2 separate regions of the Homo sapiens genome follow, and region 2 is linked to region 1. The links come from fine-mapping of genetic effects on gene expression. A gene starts in region 1. The other region holds a variant in brackets. All regions are shown on one strand. Distances are between the middles of the regions.

The links. PIP is the estimated chance that this variant, and not a neighbour inherited with it, causes the effect.
Region 2: its variant is fine-mapped to the expression of TYW2 in whole blood (INTERVAL, PIP above 0.99).

What each region holds. Positions count from the first base shown.
Region 1 is chr8:124,442,699-124,458,241 of GRCh38, forward strand. TYW2 (tRNA wybutosine-synthesizing protein 2) reads left to right here and starts at 8,122. Exons shown (of 1, transcript NM_017956.4): 1 at 8,122-10,328. The coding sequence starts at 8,230. The coding sequence ends at 9,576.
Region 2 is chr8:124,408,924-124,424,466 of GRCh38, forward strand. No RefSeq gene overlaps it. Among named protein-coding and RNA genes, the nearest start is that of TYW2, 34 kb to the right of the region's middle. The variant G/A (reference allele first, on the strand shown) is at 7,634.

The DNA.
Region 1 (15,543 bases):
TAAAGAAGCTATTTAATAGGTTTACCTTGTTTTCTTTTCTTTTCTTTTTTTTTTTTTTTTTTTTTTTTTGACGGCATTTTGCTCTTGTTGCACAGGCTGGAGTGCAATGGCATGATCTCGGCTCACTGCAACCTCCGCCTCCCAGGTTCAAGCGAGTCTCCTGCCTCAGCCTCTTGAGTAGCTGGGATTACAGCTGTGTCCCACTATGCCCTGCTAATTTTGTATTTTTAGTAGAGATGGAGTTTCACTACGTTGGCCAGGCTGGTCTTAAAACTCCTGACCTCAGGTGATCCGCTTGCCTCGGCTTCCCAAAGTGCTGGGATTACTGGTGTGAGCCACTGTGCCTGGCTAGGTTTACCTTGTTTTCTTGCACAAAAATTACAACAGCAATACATTCCACAGCAACAAAACAGAATCTGTTCCAAGCATCTGAACAAAAAGGTTTTCCATGAACCAGACAATTGCTGGAACCACCCTGATATGGGGTCAACTGACAGTGTGTTAATGGCAGAGATATGGGTGTCTAAGTCCTTCATGGCCTGAGTAATATTATGTTAATATTATGGAATATACAAACAACATTCCATTTTGATGATAGCACAAGATCTCCCTTGAGCCGCTGTTAAAATGTCCAAAGCCATGCAGTTTCGTAAGGCTACCTGTCTAATTTGAGAAGTCTCTTCAGTTAGTAGGATAATGGCATGCTGTGTAGTATTGAAAGCTGTAGCTGTATGTTGGAATACAGATTCAACTTGCCACTTGACATCCATTACAGCCACCTCTGACAGTAATATAGCCCTCGAGAAAAACCACCAAGTAGGGTCAGGCGCGGTGGCTCACGTCCATAATCCTAGCACTTTGGGAGGCCAAGGTGGGTGGATCATCTGAGGTCAGGCATTTGAGACCAGCCCGGCCAACATGGCAAAACCCCATCTCTACTAAAAATACAAAAAAATTAGCTGGGCGTGGTGGCAGGTGCCTGTAATCCCAGCTACTCTGGAGGCTGAGGCAGGAGAATTGCTTGAACCCAGGGGGCGGAGGATGCAGTGAGCGGAGATCATGCCACTTTACTCCAGCCTGGATGTAAGAGCGAAACTCCGTCCTGGAAAAAAGAAAGAAAGAAAAAAAAAGAGACCTCTTTGGTCACCTGTGGCGAGATTTCCCAACTTTCCAGTTAGACGGGAGAGAGTCTAATTTAGTGAGGATATGTCCTGGGAGATAAGGATGACCCCATGTACATCTTCCAATCCAATTACAAGATAAATACAGCCAGCCATGAGACCCACATGCCCATAGCCAGCCCCAAGGAGAAAGACAAGCAACCAGTGGCTAGGACTTATTCTGCCATTCCATGCACATTTGGTCACTTACAAGGGTGTGATTACATTGTTGGGGTGGTAACCTTCCCATATTACAGGTCTCAGTCTCTTCATAACTGTTACTATGTCTTTCAAAGCATAGGGACACTATGCTTGATACCTGCACTTGGACAGCTGTCATCCACCCAAGTCCATCATGCACAGCATAACAGGGCAGGGTGGAATTTAGCTGTTTCTTCATTAAACAAAAAAGACGCTTCCTTGTTTCATTGTGAGAAATGAAAGGGCTGGACCCTTTGTTTTTATAGTACATGGGAAAACGTGATGGATATTCACTCCAATCATAATGATGATCCCATAAACTCATATTGGCTGGCAGGATGTATCATGGCAGCACCACGGTGGAGGAGAGCTGTAGTTCTCCACACACCCGGCAATCCATTTTGTTGTGTAGGGAGGCTGAAGTTTGTGCCCAGCCAGCAAAGAGATTGCCTCTTAGCTAATACCAATATGTGTCCAGAATTGGGATATTAATCCAGATTTTTATGTTATTTATCTTTCTTGTTTCTTCTAAGCAGGAGCCAGATATCACTGGTTGGTTCACAGGAATAAGTGGAATCAGTCTCTTGTGTTCCAGCAGCCTGTGGGACTTCATAAGAAACAGACTTAATTCAAGATCAATGAGCCCAGCTGCTTCTTCCTTGAAGTGTAACTGCGGTTGAGGCACTAAGGAGTACTTACTTAGTAGGGTCCTTTCCACTGTGGGAAAGTTGATCTGCTAGGGACCATTTTTTCAAGTCATTAACAGGATCCCATTTCCTGGCTGGATTACAATAGGATTTTTTTCCTTAGTGAGGGAAGGAAGTCTCTCATTTCTGTATTCAAGAAGAGCTTTTTGCACCTGACCTAAGTTGGCAACATAATTCTGTAATTTGAAAGTATCTCCATCTACTAGGAAATCAGCAATTCTTTCAGAAAGGCTTTCCGTACATTATTTCAAAAGGGCTGAGCCTTCCACTGGGGCAGCCCAAACTTGCAGCGAGGCCACAGGCGATAGACGGAGCCAGGTTTCTGATGTTTCCTGTCAGAGCTTAGCAAGGGTCCTGTCTAAAATTTGATTGGTCCTTTCTACTTTTCCTGAAGACTGTGGCCTCCATGCGGAATGAAGACCATATTGAATTCCTAGAGCGGATGCTATGTCTTGGTTATTGTTGCTGTAAAGATGGGCCATTATCACTCTACAAGCTTTTAGGCAACCTGAATCTGGGAATCATATCCTTGAATGAAAATTTAGAAACCTTGATTGACTTTTCAGGCCAGATAGGAAAAGCTTCAATCCAACATGTAAAGAAAGGTATCAACCAACACTGATAAATATTGGAATCCTTTACATGGGGGCATTTGGGTATAGTGTGTTTGCCAATCTTCTTCTGGGTACGACCCCCTATGCTGAACAGGCTTTACTAATGGAGGAGGTAAAGTTTGGTTGTTTGAGGTTTTTTTGGGCACACAATTCACAGGCCCAAGTCACTTGTTTTACTGTTCTAAGAAAGTCTTTTCGGCCAGGCACGGTGGCTCACGCCTGTAATCCCAGCACTTTGGGAGGCTGAGGTGGGTGGATCACGAGGTCAGGAGTTCAAGACCAGCCTGGCCAACATGGTGAAACCCTGTCTTTACTAAAAATACAAAAATTAGCTGGGCATGGTGGCAGATGCCTGCAATCCCAGCTACTCGGGAGGCTGAGGCAGAGAATTGCTTGAACCCAGGAGGCAGAGGTTGCAGTGAGCTGAGATCACACCACTGCACTCCAGCCTGGGTGACAGAGCGAGACTCCGTCTCAAAAAAAAAAAGAAAGTCTTTCCCTATAAACAGATGAGCCATATTAATTGAAATGAGAAATCTCTTCCCAAATGAGTAGAGCCATGCCAATACTTAACTATTTTCCATTGATCAGCTCTTGGTACATATCATCTGTCATTTTCATCAATTAGCCATCTGGAAGTGCTTATAGTTAACCCATGGGTCTTAGCCCATTTTTGTTCTTTTCTAGTATTAACCATGCTCTAGTTTTATCGTCACCAAGGCAGTGGGCACCAACATGCCTACCAGATTAACTGGTTCCCTCAAATGAAGCTGCCTCAGCTGTAGCATCTGCAAAAGAATGCCCTTTTATTATTTTGGAGTTTTCTTTCTTTCTTTTCTTTTCTTTTTTTTCTTTTTTTTTTTTTTTTTGAGTCAGAGCCTTGCTCAAGTTGCCCAGGCTGGAGTGCAATGGCACGATCTCAGGCTCACTGCAACCTCTGCTGCCCAGGTTCAAGCAATTCTCCTGCCTTAGCCTCCCAGGTAGCTGGGATTACAGGCACGAGCCACCACGCCCAACTAATTTTTGTATTTTTAGTAGAGATGGGGTTTCACCCTGTTGGCAAGCCTGGTCTCGAACTCCTGACCTCATGATCCGCCCGCCTTAGCCCCTCAAAGTGCTGGGATTACAGGTGTGAGCCACAGTGCCTGGCATATTTTGGAGTTTTCTTTTTGATGTCCCTTGCAGTGAATCACAGCAACTTCCTTAGGCAGCAAGGAAGCATCTAGTAGATTTAAAATTCCCAAATAATGTTCTATAGGGGAGCCCTTAGAAGTTAAAGAGTCCCCATTATTTCCAAATAGCAGCATGAGCATGAAGCACCAGAAAGCCATACTTGGAGTTTGTGTACATGTTAATTCTTTTTTAAAATTATTATCCTTTTTTGAGACAGAGTCTCGCTCTGTCTCTAGCCTGGAGTGCAGTGGCATGACCTTGGCTTACTGCAAGCTCTGCCTCCTGGGTTCAAGTGATTCTCCTCCCTCAGCCTCCTGAGTAATTGGGACTACAGGTGTGCACCACCACGCCCAGGTAATTTTTGTATTTTTAGTACAAATGGGGTTTCACCATGTTGGCCAGGCTGTTCTGGAACTCCTGACCTCAAGTAATCCGCCTGCCTCAGCCTCCCAAAGTACTGGGATTACAGGTGTGAGCCACCACACCCAGCCCTAGTGGCCCGTCTTTTAAATCCTGCCAGCTGGAATAAATTTGTTCCATAGCTTGTGTACATGAATGATCTAGGGTGCCTTTGGATCCAAGTAGATACGTAGCTAGGATTAAGGTCTTCTGTTATACTTTAAGAGTTATATCAAGAGTATCTAGCAATAAAGCCTGATAATTTAATAACTATCCCCTACTCATCTATTGGTGCCCTTTAGCTTCTAGGGCCTCTGTTATTTGGTGTGGGGTCAAAACCTCCAGATGTTGTCCCAAAGTTAATTTATTGTCTTCATCTATGAGAAGAGCAGTTGTTGCAACTGCCCTGAAACATCTGAGTCATCCTGAAGCCACATGGTCAATTGGTTAGAAAAATATGCCATGGGTCAAGGGATGTATCCCTGTTTCTAGACAAGAACATTTAGGGCTGTCCCTTGTTTCTCAGCCACATAAAGGAAGAAAGTAAAGCCTGTCCCTAAACCCACGGGGAAGAATTGTCCAAGTTAACACAGAAACCAAAAGATTATTAGGTAATCAAAAGTAAAGACCACAATAGGGGACTCAGCAAAAGAAATGTTTCACTAGAGAAGGGAAATGACAAAGTTCTAGAAAGGAATGTCCAAGTTCAGGCCAGTAGCGGCAAGCAGGACAAGATTTACATGGCCTTGCCATTTGTAACCAAAAAGTAAAAGTCATTCCATTAGCAAGGAGATGAAAAAGAACTGCTGAAAAGCAATCTCCAGTTTTCCATCCTGGAGCAGTTCACCTAGGGGGGACTGGTATAATTGCTGCCAGGCTTAATCTTTCACATTGGACCTTTTCATTTAAAACTTGTAAATGCGAAATTCCAAGTAAGCTTTGCAAAAAAGGAGAGACAATAAACAATTCATTTAAGTGGTCTAGATCTAGGGAAAGTAAATATTACAGAGCCATTTGTCCCCAATGTCTTCTAGCAACATGCCAGAACAACAGGCAAATGGCCCATAACCCAAAGGCAAACAAGAAAAAGGAAAGTTAAAAACCTCAGGACCAGTTCAACAAGATCTCTCTCATAAAGTAGCAGTAAAGCATAGAAAGCAATCAGGAAACTGGCAAGTGGCAGCCTTTGGAAAGCTCTTACAGAGAGCACAAGGAGGACGAATCCACAGTGAATAATGGTTAACATCCCATTGTGCTAAACCCATTTTCAGCTGTGAGGGGCCTTTAATCCTCCCAAGTAGGCCTCAAACCCAATCTTAGATAAGTGTCCTTGTCCTTCATCGGTATAAAAATGTATTCCCCTTCTTACCCAAAGTCAGTCAGTTGGTCCTGCGCAGTCTATTTCTTTTGGGTTGAAGGTCTCACCTCAATAAAGTCCTTGGGAGTTGCCACAGGAAATGTTACTTAAAAGGAATTTTGTTCCAGACCCAAAAAACAGGTTCTTGGATCTCAGACAGGAAAGAATTTAGGGCCAGTCACAGAGCACAGTGAAAGAAGCAAGTTTATTAAAGACTACTCTATTACAGAGTAGGGTGTTCTCAGAAGGCGAGAGGAGGACCCCACACCAAAAATTATGTAGCTAGCTAAGAATAATGGTCTCATGTGCTTTAGTACAACAGCTTGTGATCCACTTGTGACAGAGTATTAGTAGTGTTATTCTCTGTGTAACTATTGATTTCAGCAAACATTTATGAAAATACTATTATCTTTAAAGAGAAACCTATTCTTAAACTAATAATGCTTTCTGTTCTCAAGATATCAGGACATCTTCTTAAGTTCTGGGTCTTGTTTAGTGAGTAAGAATCATTAGCTCGTTCAGCCAAAAGGTCTTGTTATGGGTAGAGGGTGTCCAGGTTCGTGACATCTTGAACAAAGAATTGGACAAAATGTACAAACCAAGGAAAGAATGAAGCAACAAAATCAGATTTATTGAAAATGAAAGTACACTCCCCAGGATGGGAGCAGCCCCTGTCTAGGGGCTCAACAGCTGGGTTACAGAATCTTCTGGGGTCCAAATACCCACTAGAGGTTTCTTACTGGTCACTTGGTGTTCACCCCATGCAAATGAAGTAGTGGCCTGCAATCAGAGGCTGAAGTAAAGTTACAAAGTTGCACTCCTATGCAAACGTCTGATTGAGGCCATTATTTCATTTGCATGGAGTGCACACCAAGTGGCCAATGGGAAACCTCTAGTGGGTATTTGGATTGATTGGTGGCTTTCTGCAACCAATCAGAGGTACTTTCAATTTTCCTTCTGCCCTGCAGAAAAGCAGGTTTGCAAAGGGAGTAACCTCTGGTCCTTCTGTTACTTAGGCATAGATAGTTGGTTTTTTCCTTTTGATTTAGTTCTACGAAGTCAGTGTGAATCAGCCTTAGGTTCCCTGCCTCCAGACCCTATTTTCCTGCCTCAGTCTTATTATGGAGAGTACTTAACTTTCTGGGAATGTAACCCAGCAGGTTTTGCTTTATTCAGCCTTTATTCAAGATGGAGTCACTCTGGTTTGGACTCCTCTGACAGCGGGAGTGAAGTAGAAGTGATAGGGTTTCTTTACAGTTCTTATATCCAACTATTTGATTTAGTCTATATGGAATTCCCCTTTGTCTTCTTTAGGAATATCAAAGCATTTCAACAGGTATTTAGTACCTGTGAGCTAGCCAACTTGTTACTTTGTATCTTTTTAAGTATCTACTCTTTACTAGTTATTGTCTAAGACACTATAATGTCTCTACTCACTATAGCAATCTTCTGAAGATTAGATTCCATTTTATAAGTGAAGATTCCAATTTTGAGGGGTGATACGATTTACTGGAACTCAGATCCTTCTGACTTTCAAATAGTTGTTTCTTGGACCAAAGGACAATGAAACAGTGATGACTATATCTGCATGAAAAGGGAAAAAGGGAGCTGTATCTGACTCTTCACTTTCAGAAAATAAGGTGGCTGCTGATGCTAACCTGAGAGCAGCATTAGGCTATGGGAAAGCTTTCTCCAAATTCAGATCATCATTTTGTTACAGGAAAGGGGTCCCAATGCAGACTACAACATGGGGTTCTTGGATCTCATGCAAGAAAGAATTCAGGGCAAGTCCGCAGTGCAAAGTGAAAGCAAGTTTATTAAGAAAGTAAAGGAATAAAAGAATGGCTATTCCATAGACAGAGCAGCCATGAGGGCTGCTGGTTGCCCATTTTTATGGTTATTTCCAGATGATATGCTAAACGAGGGGTGGATTATTCATGCCTCCCCTTTTTAGACCATATAGGGTAACTTCCTGACGTTGCCATGGCATTTGTAAACTGTCATGGCGCTGGTGGGAGTGTAGCAGTGAGCACCACCAGAGGTCACTCTCGTGGCCATTTTAGTTTTGGTGGATTTTGGCCGCTCCTTCACTGCAACCTGTTTTATCAGCAAGGTCTTTTTGACCTGTATTTTATGCTGACTTCCTATCTCATCTGGCGACTTAGAGTGCCTTAACCGTCTAGGAATGCAGCCCAGTAGGTTTCAGCCTCATTTTACCCAGCTCCTATTTAAGATGGAGTTGCTCTGGTTCATGCGCCTCTGACAATTTCATGTTAATTTTTCTCTTTGAATTCATGAGCAGCACTGAAGAGAGTGCATGAGGTTTCTGGAAAATAGCAATTTGAAGTCTTTTAGTCCATAAGATTCCCTGTTATAAATGTCTTCCTAGGCTGAAAAAAAAGTAATGGTTGACCATAAAAAAGATGGCGGCCGCAGCTTCTCCACAGCAACGGCAACGCCATTCTCAAGCAAGCGCATCAATATATTTAGTTCCGGCCTCTTTGCACGTCATTTCCGGCACCGGCATGGCCGGGTGAGCTGCAGGCTACCTTATTTAAGACCGGGAATTTAGTCAGCCTGGTGAGCCGACTCTGAGGAGATGGAGTATCGCTGAGGTGATGAGAGAGAATGTGGTTGTTAGCAACATGGAGAGAGAAAGTGGGAAGCCCGTGGCTGTTGTCGCAGTTGTGACTGAGCCTTGGTTTACCCAGCGATACAGAGAATATCTCCAGAGGCAGAAACTCTTTGATACACAGCACCGTGTGGAAAAGATGCCGGATGGCTCGGTGGCGCTACCGGTGCTGGGAGAGACGCTTCCAGAGCAGCACCTGCAGGAGCTGAGGAATCGTGTTGCCCCAGGCAGTCCCTGTATGCTCACGCAGCTCCCGGATCCTGTTCCTTCGAAGAGGGCCCAGGGTTGTTCACCTGCCCAAAAATTGTGTCTTGAGGTGAGTCGCTGGGTGGAGGGTCGGGGAGTCAAGTGGTCAGCCGAGTTGGAGGCTGATTTGCCCCGATCATGGCAACGGCATGGTAATCTCTTGTTGCTGAGTGAAGACTGTTTCCAAGCCAAGCAGTGGAAAAATCTGGGACCGGAACTCTGGGAGACCGTTGCCTTGGCACTTGGCGTCCAGCGTTTGGCAAAACGAGGGCGGGTATCACCGGATGGTACTCGAACTCCAGCAGTGACACTGCTGCTGGGTGACCATGGCTGGGTAGAGCATGTGGATAATGGTATCCGTTATAAGTTTGACGTGACCCAGTGTATGTTCTCCTTTGGAAACATCACTGAGAAGCTTCGAGTGGCATCGTTGTCCTGTGCTGGAGAAGTGCTGGTGGATCTCTATGCAGGGATTGGTTATTTTACATTGCCTTTCCTAGTTCATGCTGGTGCTGCCTTCGTCCATGCTTGTGAGTGGAATCCCCATGCTGTAGTTGCTCTGAGAAATAACCTTGAGATCAATGGAGTAGCAGATCGGTGCCAAATACACTTTGGAGATAACAGAAAACTGAAGCTCTCAAATATTGCAGATAGGGTGATCCTGGGGCTGATTCCCAGCTCTGAAGAAGGCTGGCCCATTGCCTGCCAAGTGTTAAGGCAGGATGCTGGAGGCATTTTGCATATCCACCAAAATGTGGAATCTTTCCCAGGGAAGAATCTTCAGGCTCTTGGAGTCAGCAAAGTAGAGAAAGAGCATTGGCTGTATCCTCAGCAAATTACCACCAACCAATGGAAAAATGGAGCTACCAGGGATTCTAGGGGAAAAATGCTGTCACCAGCCACCAAGCCAGAGTGGCAAAGGTGGGCAGAATCTGCAGAAACTCGAATCGCCACTCTTCTTCAGCAGGTGCATGGGAAACCATGGAAGACACAAATTCTGCACATCCAACCAGTGAAATCCTATGCTCCCCATGTGGATCACATAGTCCTGGATCTGGAATGCTGCCCCTGTCCTTCAGTTGGCTAGAGGAGGTAGATCCTGGGACACATGGGATCCACGTGCGAGTGGCCCTTAAATGTATCAGTTCAGTCCAGGTTGTCATCCCTTTTGTCCCCTGGTGATCAGTTTTTTTCATATTTTATAGCCCTGAAAGCAGGCTCTAGATCAATTCAAATTATTTCATTTGTCTTTCATTGATAACAGAAAATGAAATACCTGTTTGGGAGAAGCAGCATGGCCCATTGAAATGAGGCTCATCTGTGCAATTATGAATTCCAAATTCTGACCTCAGTTCTGGAATTGAAGTTTCAGTATGTTTTGGCCTCGGGTTTCGTTATTTGCAAAATGAGAGTTTCTTTGAACTGTCTCACGTGACTATTAAGCAACTATACACAGGACATCGGTTATTTTAGAGTGAAAGACACAGTGCTTTTTCCAAATTGCTCTGGCTACCATATAGAAAATTGACTGAAGGAGGGCCAAGATGGAAACAGAGAGACCAGTGAGGAGGCTTCTGTGGTTGTCCAGGTCTGAGGTGATGGTAACTTGGACTCGGATGGTGGTAATGGGAGGTAGATTGATATGATAAATAAAATTGACAGACCAAGCAATGGAATCAGAATTAAGTCCTTAACATGAAGCTGCTTTGTTATTATGACTGACTAAATTAGAGAGAGAAGGGAACAAAAATTATTTTAGTGTATTTCCATTCCCTTACTGTGGCATTCCTAAATGATTGTGAGGGGTTGTCTTATAAATTTGGTTTGTTGTGGTAGAAATATGGTTAAGAATCACCAGTCTATTTTTTTTTTTAAAGCTCATCTGCTGAGGACGAATCACTGTTCTAAATCATAGGGAATCTAGATTTCTAGCCTCAAGCTTGTGCAATAGCTGCCAATTAATACTTATTAGTTTAAAGTTCCTATTAAAATCTTAGATTCGTATAGGCCTCATACTCCCTCTTCATCTTCCTACCGTGGCTGAGAACAGGAGGGACAACCTAAGAAGCTATAGGGAATGTGAGATATTCTGCAGAGCATTTCCAGCCTCACCTTATTTTATGGCTGTCTGCCATAAAAGATGGTTTGCCACTGGAGTGAATAATTGTTTGTTGTTTTGTTTGTTTGCTTTTTTGTTTTTTTGAGACAGAGTCTTGCTCTGTCACCCAGGCTGGAGTGCAGTGGCACCATCTTGGCTCACTGCAACCTCTGCCTCCCAGGCTCAAGCGATTCTCAAGCCTCAGACTCTCAAGTAGCTGGGATTACAGGTGTGCAGCACCATGCCCAGGTAATTTTTGTATTTTTAGTAGAGATGGGGTTTCACCATGTTGGCCAAGCTGTTTTGGAACTCCTGACCTCAAGTGATCTGCCCACCTCGACCTCCCAAAGTGCTGGGATTACAGGTGTTAGCCACCACGCATGACCCAAGATGACTAATTGTTGATTACCACTCAGAGCTTTGTTCTGGTGTATTTTGAAGCTATCTAGGCTGGTTTGCTAGGTGAAGGAAATATAGAAAAGTGTGGCCTTGTATGATTGTACCTGACATTTGGCTGGCTGGATTTGGGCATGGCTACTCATCCTTCTCTTGCAACAGTAGCAGTAAGGACAGGTTGGTGCTGTTTGTGTTATCCAACAAATATTAAGTGCCTATTATATACAAAAGCCACAGGAAACATAACGATCCATTAGATAGAGTTCCTGTCTCTGAGAAACCCACAATCTAGCAGCAGAAATAACACAAGTACTCAAAGAAAGACTTGGAATGCAGTAAGATGAGTGCCATGTGAGTGATAGCACGTTGTAGGAATGAAAAGGTGGGAAAGGAGTTCTCAGAACTGAATAGTGAAGTCTTCAGAGGTAGTGTTTGAATTGGCTCATGAAAACTGGGTAAGATTTTGATGGGTAGGTTGCGGGTAGAAACAGGCACTAGTAGAAGAGAATAACAGATGCAAAAGTTTGAATCCTCAGAAAATGGTATGTTGTTATTAGATAAGTTTGGAACAGAGGAAGCAGTGAGAGATGTGTTGAAGATGGGGGTTGTTGTAAGGATTAAAAAAGCACTGTGTCTTGTACACAGTAATCCCCTAGGGAGATGTTAGCCAGCATGTGATCCCACCACAAAAACAAACAGCCTGCTTATTTCCATTCCCATCTCACAGAGCGGTCTTCCTGTGTTACCTTAATCATCTCCTCCTTTTTTTTTTTTTTTTTGTTTGAGATAGAGTCTCACTCTGTCACCCAGGCTGGAGTGCAGTGGCACAATCTCGGCTCACTGAAACCTCTGCCTCCTGGGTTCAAGCGATTCTCCTGCCTGAGCCTCCCAAGTAGCTGGGACTACAGGTGTGTGTCACCACGCCTGGCTAATTTTTTGTATTTTTAGTAGAGACGGGTTTCACCGAATTAGCCAGGATTGTCTCAATCTCCTGACCTTGTGATCTGCCCGCCTCATCCTCCCAAAGTGCTGAGATTACAGGCATGAGCCACCATGCCCAGCCAGTCATCTCCTCTTTTACATAGTGGGTTTTTCCTCACTTGTGTGTCCATGGCTTGCTGTCCTCAAACTATAAAGATACCAACCTGGAGGTTGAGCCAATATGGGAAGGGAACAAGGAGAAACAATGAGGAAGAGGAGCCAGAGAGTCAGTCTGGGGACTGAGGATTTGCCTTTTTGCCACAAGCTCTGGATAGACAGCTGATGTCAGGTGTGGCCAGTTGAACTCATTCGACCAACAGTTGTTGGACTCCTGCATGCTTGCACTCTCCCTCTCTCATATATATATTATATATATATTCATATAATATATATATCATATATAATATATATATATTCATATATAATATATATTCATATATAATATATATATTCATATATAATATATATATTCATATATAAATATATAAATAAATAAATATATACATATATATATGGGCCCTGTGTGTGCAGTGATGTAAGACTGACATGGCTCTGCCTTCATATAATTTATTTGTTTTTATTTTTTGGAGATGGAGTCTCGCTCTGTCGCCCAGGCTGGAGTGCAGTGGAGCGATCTCAGCTCACTGCAACCTCCGCCTCCCAGGTTCAAGCAATTCTCCTGTCTCAGCCTCCTGAGTAGCTGGGATTACAGGCATCTGCCACCATGCCCGGCTAATTTTTGTATTTTTGGTAGAGAGGGTTTCACCATGTTGGCCAGGCTGGTCTTGAACTCCTGACATCAAGGGATCCACCCGCCTCGGCCTCCCAAATGCCTCTTAGAATTTAGATTCCACTCATTCAACTCCTGACTCCTCTACTTTCTGGGTGACCTCAGGCAAGTTATGAATCTCTCAAGATTTAGTTTCCTTATCTGTACATTAGGGTTAACAATTGTACATATCCTGTAGGGTAGTTCTTAGGTTTAAATGAATATATGTTAAGCTGTCATCATCGTGACTCACTGAGTGGTGAATACTTTTGTAAAATAAAAAGTATCTGAGACAGGTCTCAATCAGTTTAGAGGCTTATTTTGCCAAGGTTGAGGACACACATGGGAAAAAGACACAAGTCACAGTAGGATCTGTGGCCCACACATTTTTCCAAAGAGGATTTTGAGGGCTTCAGTATTTAAAGGGGAAAGTGAGGGTAGGAGGAGTAGGGGTAGAGGAAAAAAACAAAAAGGAGTGTAGGTAGTGAGTTAAGTGGTCACATTCTTGTGAGGCTTTGATTAGTGCTCACTGAATCCACATGTTACATGTGAAGTGGGGTAGAGGAACAGTCAATTAAGCATTTGTCAGGACTCAGTAAATATGCATATGTCTGAGGTGGGCAGAGGGATGGTTTCTAGTCTTGACTTTGTGCTGTATCTGTGAAGATAAGCTGTTTACATTGTCAAGGTAAGGGAGGCCAACTGAGGAGATATGGAATCTTCTATCTTGCGGCTGTGTTTAGGCAAAAGGAAAGGCAGTTTTTTTGCATGACTGAGTTTCCAGGCTTCACTTTTCCCTTTGGCATAGTAAGTTTGGGGTCTGACTTGTTTGTTTGTTTGTTTGTTTGTTTGAGATGGAGTTTCGCTCTTGTTGCCCAGGCTGGAGTGCAATGGCACGATCTCAGCTCACCACAACCTCCGCCTCCCAGGTTCAAGCGATTCTCCTGCCTCAGCCTCCCGATTAGCTGGGATTGTAGGCATGTGCCACCACGCCCGGCTAATTTTTGTATTTTTAGTAGAGACAGGGTTTCTCCATAGTCAGGCTGGTCTCGAACTCCCGACCTCAGGTGATCCACCCACCTCAGCCTCCCAAAGTGCTAGGATTACAGGTGTGAGCCACTGCGCCCGGCCTGGGGTCTGACATTTTATTTTCCTTTCACACTTCATTCTATCAGTCAGTCTTTGTATATGATGAACCACCACTTTCCAATTTGGCTGTGAGGGGTTGCTGTATGTCTGGCCTACTTGAGGCAGAATGTCATTATTTTGAAAAGCCATTCACTGATTAATTAGGAGATACTGTGTACTCTCTCCATTAAGCGCTGTGCTTGGAGCCAGTGACATAGAGATGAATAAAACTGAGTCCTGCCCACAATGGGATCACTATCTGGTGACACAGATACAGAGAAAACAATGTCAGTGCTGTTTACTGAGTGCTTAGATAGAAATAAGGGTTTTTATGGGCACACATAGGAGAGGCAGCCACCCTCATTTGAGGATGTGGGTTGAGGATTGAACAGGGTGACTAGGAAGGTAGGAGCAGGGATGCCTAAGGGAGTGTTAAAGAATGAGCAGGAGTTAATGTGTGGATGGAAGAACAGAAGCCTCCCTTAAGCTTTTTCTCTACTTAAGCATGTTCATTTACATTTTAGTTTTCTTTGAGGACTTGCTGGATTGCCCTGGTTGGGAAGAGGCATCTTATGGAACCAATGAAAAAAGACTGAAGGGTTCGGGAGGCTCATGGGGTCCTTGTCATCTCAGTCCAGCAATTTGTATAAGCTCTAAAGGCTTCCCATGCAAGCTTCAGTATTAGTTGCCAGTCAATGCAGCCACCTGATAGAGATATTGTGATTTTTAAAAAATAGTAATTTTTAAAAACTCCCTCAAACTTGAGCTGCTTTATTAACTTTGTAATTTAAAAAATTATATGAGTGCAGTAATATATGAGTACAATATGTGCCTTTGAAATACACAAATAGGCCAGGTGCGGTGGCTTATGCCTGTGATCCCAGCACTTTGGGAGGCTGTGGCAGGTGGATCACCTGAGGTCAGGAGTTTGAGACTAGCCTGTCCAACATGGCAAAACCCTGTCTCTACTAGAAATACAAAAATAAGCCAGGTGTGGTGGTGGGCTTCTATAATTCCAGCTACTTGGGAGGCTGAGGCAGGAGAATCTCTTGAACTCAGGAAGTGGAGGTTGCAGTAAGCCGAGATTGTGCCACTGCACTCCAGCCTGGGCAACAGAGCAAGACTCTGTCTCAAAAACAGAAAAACCATACACGAACAGAAATTAAAAATAGTAAGAAACAAATAGAATTTAAATTTCATTTTCTCCTACCCTGGGCATACATGTGACAAAATCCAATATATATCACTCTGAACAGCCTCAGGGTACAGCCACTTTATATTGCACAAGCTGTAAAAGTAGTCATTTTCAAACTCAACTATTATTTAAAATGATTACAAGCATTTAAAATGTTTAAAATAAAGATCCAACCCTGTTCACTTGGGAAACAGTTGTGGCAGTTCCTTAAAGTGTTGAACATAGGGTTAGCATATTACCCAGCAGTGAATTAACCAAATAAATAAGACATATGTGATAGAGGTATATATACCCAAGAGAATGCAAACATATGTCCACACAAAGGCTTGTGCGTGAATATTTGTAGCAGCATTATTCATAGACAAAATGTGGAAACAACCCAAAGTCCATCAACTGATGAGTGGTTAAACAAAATGTCATATATATACAATGGAATCTGTAAAAAGGAATGCAGTACTGATACATGGTTTCTGGATGAACCTTGAAA
Region 2 (15,543 bases), 34 kb before region 1:
AGTCCTTGGAGGAACACAGGTAAGTCAATTTCCTTATTGTTAAAAAGATTAGACTAAATGAGCCCAAAGGTTCCTTTCATTAGACAATTTTGATTCCAGGATTATATGTTGGCTATTTGGCATAGATGGTGTCTGAAGTTACTGAGAAGTAATTGGATTCATGGGACACTAGTGTAATTGACACTCCAACTAAGTATTGACTTTTCTCAGGACATTAGCAAGGACTTTGTGCTGTCTTTAAAGCTTGCTGACTACAGCGTTCACGTTAATAGATTATCTTGTGGCTTAGGAACAGTTTTTCAAAGAGACTTAAAGAATGCTTTAAATTCTTCCACAAAAGTACTAGCTTAAGATGGCAAGGTCAAGTACTGAAATAGAAAGAACATTGGTTCTGGAGCCAGAACTGGGACACATCCTCACTCTGCTTGCACTATTTGTGTCACCTTGGCCACATCATGGAATTCCTGTGAGATTTAGTTTTTCTTCACTCTTAAGTAAAATTTTAGCTGGGCAATCTCTAAACTCCCTTTAAGTTCTGAAGACCTGTGATCCAAGATACTGTAAAAGTTTATAAACATGAGCATGTATTCCTGTGCTTAAAAATTCCCGGCTGGGCGCGGTGGCTCACGCCTGTAATCCCAGCACTTTGAGAGGCCAAGGCGGGCAGATCACGAGGTCAGGAGATTGAGACCATCCTGGCTAACACAGTGAAACCCCATCTCTACTAAAAATACAAAAAATTAGCCAGGCTTGGTGGCAGGCTCCTGTAGTCCCAGCTACTCGGGAGGCTGAGGCAGGAGAATGGCGTGAACCTGGGAGGCAGAGCTGGCAGTGAGCCGAGATCACACCACTGCACCCAGCCTGGGTGACAGAGTGAGACTCTGTCTCAAAAAAAAAAAAAAAAAAAAAAAAAAAAAAAAAATTCCCAATGCTTCTATTTGTTCTTAAAAGAAACTTAGACTTCCTATGCTGATTATACAATCAGCATAATCTAGCCCCTGCTTACTTCACTACCTGATCTCAACCTCTGCCTCTCTCTGTTTTTATAACATGCCAGGCGTGTTGCTGCATCAGAATGGAGCATGTATTATTCCCACTACCTGGGTTATTCTGAGCCCAGATCTTTGCATCACTGGCTCCTCTTCATCATTCAAATTCAGCACAGATGTTACCTCCTGAGAGAGGCCTTTCCCAAACTCTCAACCCCAAGTAGTCTTGGACCTTGTCTGACTGTCCAATACCCCATAGCACCCCCAGTACCTAGCCTAGTGCCTGGCACCAAAGTAGATTCTCAATAAATATTTACTGATTTCAGCCCCAGAATCAAGTACAGCTGTTCTATTTGCATCTTTTTTTGCATAATCAAGATAGGTAGGTCCCCAAATATGAAAAGATTTTTGGAAAGATGAAAAGTAGAAGTCACATTAGCTTCCCCGCCCACCCCCCCAAAAAAAATCTTGTTATAGCGGCATCAGCTTTAAGAACAATCACTAAAGTGAATGGATTGGGGCCAGCGATTACATCACATAAAAGTCATGGTATTCCAAAAATTAGCCGAGTGTGCTGGTGCACAGCTATAATCCCAGCTACTTGGGAGGCTGAGACAGGAGAATCACTTGAACCCAGGAGGCAGAGTTTGCAGTGAGTCAAGATTACACCACTGCAGTCTTGGTGACTGAGCAAGACTCTGTCTCAAAAATAAATAAATAAATAAATAAATAAATAAATAAATAAATAAAGTCATGATATTCACCATGTATTCAAAATACATGAGTATCTCAATAGATGCAGAAAAGGCCTTTGACAAAATTCAACAGCGCTTCCTGCTAAAAACTCTCAATACATTAGGCATTGATGGGACGTATCTCAAAATAATAAGAGCTATTTATGACAAATCCACAGCCGATATCATACTGAATGGGCAAAAAACTGAAAGCATTCCCTTTGAAAACTGGCACAAGACAGGGATGCCCTCTCTCACCACTCCTATTCAACATAGTGTTGGAAGTTCTGGCAAGGGCAATCAGGCAGGAGAAAGAAATAAAGGGTATTCAATTAGGAAAAGAGGAAGTCAAATTGTTCCTGTTTGCAGATGACATGATTGTATATCTAGAAAACCCCATTGTCTCAGCCCAAAATCTCCTTAAGCTGATAAGTAACTTCAGCAAAGTCTCAAGATACAAAATCAATGTGCAAAAATCACAAGCATTCTTATACACCAGTAACAGACAAACAGAGAGCCAAATCATGAGTGAACTCCCACTCACAATTGCTAGAAAGAGAATAAAATACCTAGGAATCCAACTTACAAGGGATGTGAAGGACCTTGTCAAGGAGAACTACAAACCACTGCTCAACAAAATAAAAGAGGATACAAACAAATGGAAGAACATCCCATGCTCATGGATAGGAAGAATCAATATTGTGAAAATGGCCATACTGCCCAAGGTAATTTATAGATTCAATGCCATCCCCATCAAGCTACCAATGACTTTCTTCACAGAATTGGAAAAAACTACTTTAAAGTTCATATGGAATCAAAAAAGAGCTCGCATTGCCAAGTCAATCTTAAGCCAAAAGAACAAAGCTGGAGGCATCACGCTACCTGACTTCAAACTATACTACAAGGCTACAGTAACCAAAACAGCATGGTACCGTTACCAAAACAGAGATATAGACCAATGGAACAGAACAGAGCCCTCAGAAATAATACCACACATCTACAACCATCTGATCTTTGACAAACCTGACAAAAACAAGAAATGGGGAAAGGATTCCCTATTTAACAAATGGTAGGCCAGGGGTGGTGGCTCACGCCTGTAATCCCAGCACTTTGGGAGGCCAAGGTGGGCGGATCACGAGGTCAGGAGATCGAGACCATCCTGGCTAACACAGTGAAACCCCGTCTCTACTAAAAATACAAAAAATTAGCCGGGCGTGGTGGCGGGTGACTGTAGTCCCAGTTACTCTGGAGGCTGAGGCAGGAGAACGGTGTGAACCCAGAAGGCAGAGCTTGCAGTGAGCCGAGATCGCTCCACTGCACTCCAGCCTGGGCGACAGAGTGAGACTCCGTCTCAAAAAACAAACAAACAAACAAACAAAACAAAACAAAAAAAAACAAAAACAAATGGTGCTGGGAAAACTGGCTAGCCATATGTAGAAAGCTGAAACTGGATCCCTTCCTTACACCTTATACAAAAATTAATTCAAGATAGATTAAAGACTTAAATGTTAGACCTAAAACCATAAAAACCCTAGAAGAAAACCTAGGCATTACCATTCAGTACATAGGCATGGGCAAGGACTTCATGTCTAAAACACCAAAAGCAATGGCAACAAAAGCCAAAATTGACAAATGGGATCTAATTAAGCTAAAGAGCTTCTGCACAGCAAAAGAAACTACCATCAGAGTGAACAGGCACCCTACAGAATGGAAGAAAATTTTTGCAATCTACTCATCTGACAAAGGACTAATATCCAGAATCTACAAAGAACTCAAACAAATTTACAAGAAAAAAACACACAACCCCATCAACAAGTGGGTGAAGGATATGAACAGACACTTCTCAAAAGAAGACATTTATGCAGCCAAAAGACACATGAAAAAATGCTCATCATCACGGGCCATCAGAGAAATGCAAATCAAAACCACAATGAGATACCATCTCACACCAGTTAGAATGGCGATCATTAAAAAGTCAGGAAACAACAGGTGCTGGAGAGGATGTGGAGAAATAGGAACACTTTTACACTGTTGGTGGGAGTGTAAACTAGTTCAACCATTGTGGAAGACAGTGTGGTGATTCCTCAAGGATGTAGAACTAGAAATACCATTTGACCCAGCCATCTCATTACTGGGTATATACCCAAAGGATTATAAGTCATGCTACTATAAAGACACATGCACATGTATGTTTACTGCAGCACTATTCACAATAGCAAAGACTTGGAACCAACCCGAATGTCCATCAATGATAGACTGGATTAAGAAAATGTGGCACATATACACCATGGAATTCTGTGCAGCCATAAAAAAGGATGAGTTCATGTCCTTTGTAGGGACATGGATGAAGCTGGAAACCATCATTCTCAGCAAACTATCGCAGGGACAAAAAACCAAACACCGCCTGTTCTCACTCATAGGTGGGAATTGAACAATGAGAACACTTGGACACAGAAAGGGGAACATCACACACTGGGGCCTGTTGTGGGGTGGGGGGAGTGGGGAGGGATAGCATTAGGAGATATACCTAATGTGAATGACGAGTTAATGGGTGCAGCACACCAACATGGCACATGTATAGATATCTAACAAACCTGCATGTTGTGCACATCTACCCTAGAACTTAAAGTATAATAAAAAAAAAATACTGACCTTCATCAATAAGCAGGAAAATACTTAGATAGGTACTATTTATTTACATTCTAATACATTTTACAGTTATTAAATACAACTGTCTTTGTACTTCTCTGCATTTTATTTTATGGATTTAAACTTGTGCAGCTCTTCCATTTACTAGCACAATGAACCAGAGCAAATTTCTTCCCCTCTGTTTCCTCGTGGATGAAATGAAGATTAAAAATGTGCATCACAAGGTTGTTACGAGAATTCACTGAGATGATTTTCATAATGAACCATAGAGCACCAGGCTCATAGTAGGTACCTAACAAGATATTCTTTCCATTGCCTGTCTCCCAAAACTCTTATGATTATGGAGTTCTTAATGAATTTCAAGATAATAATTGGTGTATGACATTATGACATTTTCCAGACCTGTGTACTGTTATTAAATCTTAATTGTAGCTACTGCTAAAAATATCTAAGACCAGTTGCTTAATCTGACTTTGACCTTGACATATTTAAATACTGACAGGGTGTTTGGAAGCCTAGTTTCAGTTTTGACTAGTGTTTTCTGAATAGCTTTGGGTAAATAATTTATTGTTTCTATCTAAAACAATGGTCCCTTGCCTTTGCATAACTTTCAGTACATAAGTTTGAATGTAATTTATAAAATTGAGATGGTTATTAATAAGAATAAAGAGATAAGGTGTTTTCTCAGAAAGCATGCATAATTAATATTATTGCCTTAATGATTAAATTGTACTTAATGAACCATATTCTGCCAGAGTCTGAAGTAGTCCCTTGTTAATTAGAATAACCTTTGAAATCATTACCTTTGGGTGTCTATTTGATATCAGCGAGGCGTGACATATTAAGTAGCCAGGTTATCCAGGCTCCAAAGATCAGTGCATTATAAATCACCAAGTATTTATGAAATGCCTACTTTTCTGTAAATTCCTTGAGAGCAGCAGCCATATATTTTTCATCCCCTACCATTTATGAATCACAGTTATCTGAGATGTATTAAATTTAGTGGCTTCTCTTCAAGGATTTATAAGGAAGATACGAAAATTGCAAATGGGTTTTTTTTTTACAATGGTTTCCCTTAACATAGTTTTCTATAGAAATGTATGCATATGTGTATTTCTATACAAATGCATAACTTTTACATAAGTAATTATATAAATGAAAATGGTAATAAAAATATATTTGTAATATGTAACATATTACTCTCTCTCTCTCTCTCTCTCTCTCTCTCTCTCTCTATATATATATATATATATATATATTTTTTTTTTTTTTTTTTTTTGAGACAGGGTCTTACTCTGTCACCCAGGCTGGAATGTAGTGGCACAATCTTGGCTCATTGAAACCTCCACCTCCCGGGTTCAAGCGATTCTCCTGCCTCGGCCTCCCGAGTAGCTAGGACTACAGGCGTGCACCACCATGCCCAGCTAATTTTTGTATTTTTAGTAGAGACGGGGTTTTCCCATGTTGCCCAGGCTGGTCTCGAACTCCTGACCTCAAGTGATCCACCTGCCTTGGCCTCCCAAAGTGCTGGATTATAGGCATGAGCCATCACACCTGGCCAATATACACTTATAAGTATATGACATAGTAAATATGCAATGCATTATGTTTCTAACTTAGTCCATAAACTTGAAGTGATCCCAAAATAAATAAAGCAACCAAATTGCTACTTCCTTTTGAGCATAATTACAATATTTAAATTTGTTGACTCATTTTTTTAAGAGACAGGGTCTAGCTCTGTTGCCCAGGCTGGAGTGCAGTGGCATGAACACGGCTCACAGCAGCCTCAACCTCCTGGGCTCAAGCGATCCTCGTGTGTTGGCTCCCTAGGTGCTGGGAACTAGGTGTGAGCCACCATACCAGGCCCATATATTTTAATATATAACAAGATGCCTAAGGATCATCACTAGGCCAGGTTTCCCTCCAAAGTGAATCTTTGGTTCACAACCACTATGTAAATCCCCAAACAGGATGGTGAGACTGAATTGGGGGAAAAGAGAGAGACAGAAAGCATAGGGAGTTGCCGTGAGTCACACTCCAGTGGCAGAAAAGGGACCAGGAGACTTTTGGTTTGTATTCCTCTGGCTCCCAGGAAATAATATTGGTAATAGGCTCTGCCAAAGTCAGTGTTGATGATTTATAAAGTGTCTATCTCTTGTACATCAGGTATTTATGACGCAGAGTCTATGGGATGTGTAGTGGATTTATCCACCAGACAGAAAGAAGTTCTGGATTTCAAGAGTGACTGCCCTGAAATTTTAGGCAAAGTCCAGATTGTATATCCATTACTCTGCAGAGGGTCATTCCAAAGCATTCTGTGACTCAAGTTAAGAGCCCAAAAGATAGGGTTTCATTTGCCCCCCATAATTACTTGGTGAGGGGGATAGTGTGAGGATCATTACCTCAGGGTCCTCCCCCAATCAGGGCCTGTGGGTAACAATTAGTGGCCCCACACAGTTCACCAACCAGCTGCTCAGCTAAGCGGGAGCCAAAGTGCATAGGAGCCATGAGCAGGACTGCTGTCTGGGGAGGGAAAGCGGGAGAGAATGGCAAACAAGCTGGAGAGAATTCCTCATGGTAACATTGTGAGAGGGAGTAGAAGAAGAAAGGCGAGCTCAAATGGAATTGAAGGTGTGATGTTGTGATATAGTAAGAAATACGTATTTGTTCTCTGCCCCAAGTCCCTGACACAGAGCTCCTACAACCCTTGTAATTTGCTGAGCAATAGAGGTGCTAGCTGCATCTTTTGTTCTAATATATTGTTTTTGACTGTGGTTCCTGACACTGAACTCCTAAATACTTTTGAGTTTCTTGGGTGATTGGAGCATCTTCCGTTCTAATGAGGTGGCTCTTGGTGGGCCCCTGGATGGGGGCTGCTTACCAGAAAGACCAAGCCATGATTAGAATCTTCGAGCTTTCAGGCTGGGCGTAGTGGCTCATGCTTGTAATCCCAGCACTTTGGAAGGCCGAGGTGGGTGGATCACATGAGGTCAGGAGTTTGAGACCAGCCTGGCCAACATAGTGAAACCCCATCTCTACTAAAAATACAAAAATTAGGCCTGGCGCGGTGGCTCACGCCTGTAATCCCAGCACTTTGCGAGGCCGAGACAGGCGGATCACGAGGTCAAGAGATGGAGACCATCCTGGCCAACATAGTGAAACCTCCTATCTACTAAAAATACAAAAATTAGCTGGGCATGGTGGTGCACGCCTGTAGTCCCAGCTACTCGGGAGGCTGAGGCAGGAGAATCGCTTGAACCC[G/A]GGAGGTGGAGGTTGCAGTGAGCCGAGATCGCAGCACTGCCCTGGCAACAGAGCAAGACTCCATCTCAAAAAAAAAAAAAATAGCCCTCGTGGTGGTGCGTGCCTGTAATCCCAGCTACTAGTGAGGCTGAGGCAGGAGAATTGCTTGAACCTGGGAGGCTGAGGTTGCAATGAGCTGAGTGAGATTGCGCCACTGCACTCCAGCCTGGGTGACAAAGCGAGACTCCATCTCAAAAAAAACTTTAAAAAGGCCGGGCACAGTGGCTCACGCCTATAATCCCAGCACTTTGGGAGGCCGAGGCGGGCGGATTGCCTGAGATCAGGAGTTCACGACCAGCCTGGGCAACACGGTGAAACCCTGTCTCTACTAAAATACAAAAAATTAGCTGGGCATGGTGGCCTGCGCCTGTAGTCCCAGTTAGTTGGGAGGCTGAGGCAGGAGAACTGCTTGAATCCAGAAGGCGGAGGTTGCAGATCACGCCACTGCACTCTAGCCTGGGCGACAGAGCAAGACTCCATCTAAAAAAAAAAAAAAAATTTGGGGATAAGCGCATAAAACTATAGGTTGACTAAAGGTAAGTGCTATTTTATAGATCTTGCCATATCTCACAGTATTTATCTCAATGTACAATTAAGGGCTCAATAAGCATGTATATTATGTTCATGGCAGGCACTATGAGGAGAAAAATAAAATTTAAAAATGATATATTACGGTTATAATAAGCAATAATAAATAATTATATTTATTATTATAATTAATAAATATAATGTGTTATATTGTATATTATAATTATATTATTTATAATAAACAATAATACATTAAAATCAAATTAATCGTTTTGCATCATTTATTAATGGTTAATTAATGATTGATGCACAAAAAAAGGGGCAATTTTTTTTGAAGCAAAGATGCAGTCAAATGAATGTGTAGATAAATGCTGCAAGCAGTGGATTAAAATTCAGGGAGTTGGCTGTGCACGATGGCTCACATCTGTAATCCCAGCATTTTGGGAGGCCAAGGTGGGAGGATCACCTGAGGTCAGGGGTTTGAGACCACCCTGACCAACATGGTGAAACCCCGTCTCTACTAAAAATACAAAAATTAGTCAAGTGGGGTGGCTCATGCCTGTAATCCCAGCTACTTGGGAGGCTGAGGTGGGAGAATCACCTGAACCTGGGAACCAGAGGTTGCAGTGAGCTGAGATCGTGTCACTGCACTCCAGCCTGGGCAACAGAGAGAGACCGTCTCAAAAAAAAAAAAAAAAAATTCAGGGAGTTCAAACTCCTGTGTGACGGGGAAGATGATTTGCACAAAGGCACATCCACATAAAAAGTGGCACATTCAGGAATACACTCAGCATTCCAGCATTCTTGATTCCCAGACTTAAGATTTTCCACTACTCTATGCTGCTGTGTTGGAGAGTAGTGAGAAGTAAGGCTGGACAGGTGGAGCCTGAGGGGGTTTGGGCCTTGAGAATCCAAGCTAAGGTACCTGAGTAGAGAAGCATCACAGAAGAGGCACTAGCCAATGGAGGAAAGCTATCATGGGTTTACACAGTGAGGAAAGAATTGATTTCTGGGCCAGGCATGGTGGCTCATGCCTGTAATCCTAGCACTTTGGGAGGCCAAGGCAGGCAGATCACCTGAGGCCAGGAGTTAGAGACCAGGTTGGCCAACATAGCGAAACACCTTCTCTACTAAAAAAAAAATACAAATATTGGCCAGGCATGGTGGTGCATGCCTGTAATCCCAGCTACTCAGGAGGCTGAGGCATTAGAGTTGCTTGAACCCACCACTGCACTCCAGCCTGGGTGACAGAGAGAGACTCCGTCTCAAAAAAAAAAAGAATTGATTCCATTCTATAGTCAGTAAACATCTAATGGTTTGACAAGTATTCAGCATCAGAATGAGAAATTTGGCATTAGGTAATTTATAATAAACACAAAAGATAAATAGGAAATATGACAATATGGCCTGGATTTGATAGCAGACACCTGTGCCTAATGGATGATGGGTGTCTGCCAACATTCATAAGCTTCAAAGATGCATCCCAGCCACAGACATAAAGCACTGATATGTAGGATGTCCTTGGGTACACAGGGCAGTTTCCTATGCTAGGGACATATCTTGCTTTAATTTCTCAGCAATGTTTTGTACTTTTCAGTGTAGAGGTCTTATACATCCTCCATGAGATATATCCCATGGTATTTTGTGTTTCTGATGCAGTTATAAGTTATTTTAAAATTTTCATTCCATTTGAGTTTCTTTATCTTTCCCTTTTTAAAATATAATTCTTTTAAGTATTTACATATGTTGGACATCATATTAGATAACATATAAATTTTTTTAACCATCAAATATGAAACTCTCAGTTTTAAGGACTTTCTTAAAACTTGAAAAGTGTTGCTGCGGTAAAGAAAGAGGGGAAAAATATTTGCATAGAGACACAGTTGAAAATATGAATCCCCTTATTATGACCATAATTTTTTGTTAAGACATGGAACCAGAAGATTTTGTATCAGAATATAGTTGATTTTGTACTAGCAATCAGTGATAAGACATATGATTCAGAATAGCTAGCTGTACTCTTGTCTGATAGTTTTTTATTCCAGATACAAAGCAAAATTTAATATACCAAATTTAATTTTGCCACTGGTAACCATTATAAAAGTGAAGACAGTTCTTCAAGAATATTTTGGTTTTCAAACAAAGCCATACTAAAAGATGCAAAAACATTCTTAAACATCCAAAATGTAATTAATAACATTATAATATAATTTAAATACTATAAAAAATAACAAAGTTAAAGCACCAGACTGCTCTACTTATTTTAAAAAGTTATTAAAAAGAAAAAGATGTGTGTGGCAGACATTAATTGCCTACTAAAAATCCATTCTTCCCTGCTTTCTTATTAATACAGTTTGTTTGTTTGTTGGTTGGTTGGTTGGTTTTGAGACAGAGTCTCGCTCTATCGCCCAGGCTGCAATGCAGTGGCATGATCTCGACTCACTGCAACCTCCGCCTCCCGGATTCAAGCGATTCTCCTGACTCAGCCTCCGGAGCAGCTGGGACTAAAGGTGTGCGCAACCACCCGGCTATTTTTTATATTTTTAGTAGAGACAGGGTTTCACTATGTTGGCCAGACTGGTCTCGAACTCCTGACCTCAAGTGATCCGCCGGCCTCGGCCTCCCAAAGTGCTGGGATTACAGCGGTGAGCCACCGCGCCAGCATATACAGTTCTGATTAGTGTGGGTGTCAATGTCCCCTGTTAAAGAGTACCTCCCCAGACTCCCTTGCTATTGGTGACCAGTAACCCACCTCTGGCCAATGAAAAACAAGTGTAATTCACTGGGTGGAACCCCTAAGGAAGTGTATTAAAGATGGCCGACTCAGCACCAGGCCTTTTGACTTTCTCCCTTACTCCTTTCCCTGTTTCCTTCCGATAATGTAGCTCAGTGCTTGGAGATGGAGCAGCCATTTTGACACCGTGAGAATAAAAACATGTAAGAAAGCCAGGAGGATCTCTGGTCTCAGATGGCAGCATTAAGCTGCCATTACTACCCTAGTTTACCTACTTGCGTGCCTGTTTATATAAGGGGGAAAAAAAAAAAACTAAAACCTTTTGGTTAATCAACTATGTCAGGGAAGGTCCTCGCCATCAGGATTTCTGATTCAGTGGGCTGGAGGTAGGACCCAGGAACTTACATCTTTCACATGAGCCCCAAATGATTCCCATGCCAGTAATCCAAGGATTATTTTACAGAAACTCTCCTTTGGTAGGTGTGAATTGGAAATTTAATGTTAACTGGGGAGTCAAGAGGATTATGAACTTGGGTGGGAGGGTAGCAAGTCAAATGATAAATTGCCAGTGGCATACAAAAGTTTACAAATGACCGCTTAGGCTTGATGTTATGATTTACTAACATTTTCCTTGAATTTTCTAAATTATGCTATGTCACAGAGAAATGAATGCTGATGGTAAAACTGTAAATTGTCTGCAGCAGCAGATTAAGTCCTTCAATCCTGGTTTAACTTTATTATGAAATCCCATTGAATAACTGAAACAAGAGTATTTTCTTCCTGAGGACAGTTGCTCTATAAAATATTGTCTTGGGTGAACTATACCAAGAAATATAAGATCTATTTGATTCACAGAAGTGCAGTTCAAGCAGTTCTGTTTCTAAAAGGCAATACTAAATATAATAAATGGATGCCACACCAGTTTAAATGTATAAATGGTTTTCATTGTCAACATCAATGCCAGATAATTCAATTTGTTTCTTCCTGAGATTATGATCTTATTTAGACATTAACCCGTTTTATTTATTTATTTATTATTTATTTATTGACTCAGGATCTTGCTCTGTATCCCAGGCTGGAGTGCAGAGGTGCCATCATGGCCCACTGCAGCCTCAAAGTCCTGGGCTCAAAGGATCCTCCCACCTCAGCCTCTGGAGTACCTGGGGACTACATGCATGCGCCACTACGCCCAGCTAATTTTTTTTTAAAGATGGGGTCTCGGCCGGATGGGATGGCTCATCACGCCTGTAATTCCAGCACTTTGGGAGGCCAAGGTGGGCAGATCACTTGAGGTGAGGAGATCGAGACCATCCTGGTCAACAGGGTGACATCCCGTCTCTGCTAAAAATACAAAAATTAGCTGGGCATGGTGGTACGTGCCTGTAATCCCATCTCCTCAGGAGGATGAGGCAGGAGAATTGCTTAAACCAGGGAGTCGGAGGTTGCAGTGAGCTGAGATTGCACCAGTGCACTCCAGCCTGGTGACAGAGCAAGACTCCGTCTCAAAAAAAAAAAAAAAAGATGGGGTCTCACTATGTTGCCCAGGCTAGCCTCAAACTCCTAGGCTCAAGGAATCTTCCCAAAGTGCTAGGATTATAGACATGAGCCACTGCACCTGGTCCCCAGTTTTATTTTTTAACCATGACAGCTGTAGCTTTGTCTAGCGACAGCTCCCTTCTGAAAACAAATCCAGCAACATACTGTTGTTACACAAAGATACACTTATGCTATTGTTCCTTTTCTTTATAAGATAGTAAGCTCCTTAATGATATTTTTTTAAGATGGGTATCTCACTATGCTGCCCAGGTTGATCACAAACTCCTGGGTTCAAGCAATCCTCCCCTCTCAGCCTCCCTAGTAGCTGAGATTACAGGCGTGCACCACCACACCCAGTTCAGCTAACGCATTTAGAAGTAAATTGTATTGAGATGTAGGGTTATAATTCTTACACTGAAAAGTTTTGTAAAGTGTGTATATAGCAGGTATAAAATTATTACAATGGAATTCTAACTTTTTTTGGAGGGGTGGGGTGGGTGGGTCTCACTCTGTTGCCCAGGCTGAAGTGCAGAGGTGTGATTTCGGCTCACTGCAACCTCCGCCTCCTGGGTTCAAGTGATTCTCCTGCCTCAGCCTCCCAAGTAGCTGGGACTACAGTTGCCTGCCACCACCATGCCCAGCTACTTTTTGTATTTTTAGTAGAGATGTGGTTTCACTATGTTGGCCAGGCTAGTCTCAAACTCCTGACCTGGCCTGGCTAGTCTCAAACTCCTGACCTGATCACCTCCTGGCCGAGGTGATCTGCCCGCCTCGGCCTCCCAAAGTGCTGAGATTACAGGCATGAGCCACCGCACCTGGCCAGAATTCTTTCTTATGCAAGAGTTAGGCACTTAAGTGTGCTCAGGTATAGACCGAAATTAACTTTATATGTCTCTTAAATTATCCATGCAGTGTAATACAAATAATAGTTGTCCCTGGTCTTCAAAGACATGAATCCTTAAATACAGAATCCATACTTTCACACTTTCAGAGCTAGAAAGAACTGAGAAGAACTGACCGACAGGTTCAGACTGCCCATATCTGCCAAAGGCAGGGCATTCAGAGGAAAAGAAGGAAGTCACGGCCCTGCAGCAGTTCAGTCTGTTGGGGATGACAGCTTGTAAACAAGTAATTATAGTGGCTGTATCACGGGCCCATAAAGGAGAAAGCTGTGCGTTTGAGCCAGGGAGAAGGGCAGGCAGCCCGGGAAGACATCTGAGAGGAGGTACTGGCATGAGAGCGATATTGTAAAGGATGGCAAAAATAAGTCTGTGTGTGTTGCTCAGACAGAGGAAGGGCGTGACGTGGGGCAGGGATCATTTCCCAAGGCCAAAGCACAGGGTGTTTTTGAAGAGGGGCTAGATATCATGTCAGAGAGATTAAGCCCACAGTGAAAAACACCTCAAACACAATGCCGAGAAATTTTAACTTTATTCTGTAAATAATGGGGAGCCATTGAAGGATATTCAGCAGGAAAATGAATTGACCAGATACGCATGTTAGAAAATTTCCTCTGATTTTATGTGTTGTTTACAGTCCTTTTTGTATATCAGTCAGTATGAGAACCTTCGTAAGGAAATTGACCCCTTAACATAACCACTCTAATTTCTTTATATTTCCTCTGAAATTAGCACACAAAATAAGAACAACTTCCCATGTACCTCTATGTAGTGTTCTGATTATGACCCTTGGAGACTTCTCTCTGAATTTTTTTTTTTTAATCAATGCAAGTCCGGGTGCGGTGGCCACGTGTAATCCCAGCACTTTGGGAGGCCAAGGCGAGTGGATCACTTGAGGTTAGGAGTTCAAGACCAGCCTGGCCAACATGGTGAAACCTCGTCTCTACTAAGAATACAAAAATTAGCTGGGCCTGGTGGTGGGCACCTGTAATCCCAGCTACTGGGGAGGCTGAGGCAGGAGAATCACCCCAGGAAGTGGAGGTTGCAGTGAGCAGAGATAGCGCCACTGCACTCCAGCCTGGGCGACAGAGTGAGACTTTGCCAAAAAAAAAAAAAAAAAATCCATGTAAAAAAGAATTTATTCTTTTAATCTTTTATAATTTTTATTTTTTTGGTAGAGAGGGAGGCTAGCTATGTTACCTAGGCTGGTCTTGAACTTCTTGCCTCAAGCAATCCTTCTGCTTCAGCCTCCCGAAGTGCTGGGATTATAGGGGTGAGCTACTGCACCTGACCCCAAAAAATAATTTAATAGAAACTGTGTATCCAGTTCTTTTCATTCATGTAGTTCCTAAGGCCAGTTTTTAAGTGGATCTGTATAGAGAAAATGTTACCATGAGAATCCAATGTGTATTTTAAATGTAAATAACCACTAATGGTGAAAATAATGAAAAATAAGCTCAAATCTCTAGTAATTGTGCAATACTTGCAATTATATGATACTGATTTGATTGTTCTATGCAAAGGAAATTTAGAATCAAACCCAGTTATAAAGGAAATAATTCGTAGGATTGGAGTCCTGAATAATTATCCCATCTGTCCACAGGCCAGACAGAGGGGCAGCCTGTTTATCTATATTTATCATATACATATGTGTGCATTTATGGAATATAAAAGCACAAATAGAGATAATCTCTAAACTGAACATACTTTGAGACACAATCAAAAATTCAAATAGTAGGCTGAGTACAGTCGCTCATGTCTGTAATACCAGCACTTTGGAGGCCGAGGCAGGTGGATCACCTGAGGTCAGGAGTTCGAGACCAGCCTGACCAATATGACAAAATCCCGTCTCTACCAAAAATACAAAAATTAGCCAGGAATGGTGGCACGCATCTGTAATCCCAGCAACTCAGGAGGCTGAGGCAGGAGAATCACTCGAACCCAGGAGGTGGAGGTTGCAGAGAGCCAAGATCGTGCCACTGCACTCCAGCCTGGGCAACAAGAGCAAAACTCTGTCTCAAAAAAAAAAAAAAAAGATACCATTCCTTCTGAATGCTTCAGAGGAGAATCCATTTCCTTCCCCTTCATAGCTTCTAGAAACTTCCTGCATTCTTTGGTTCTTTCTTTGCCTCATTCCAGCCTCTTGCTTCTGTAGTCACACCTCCTAGTACTCA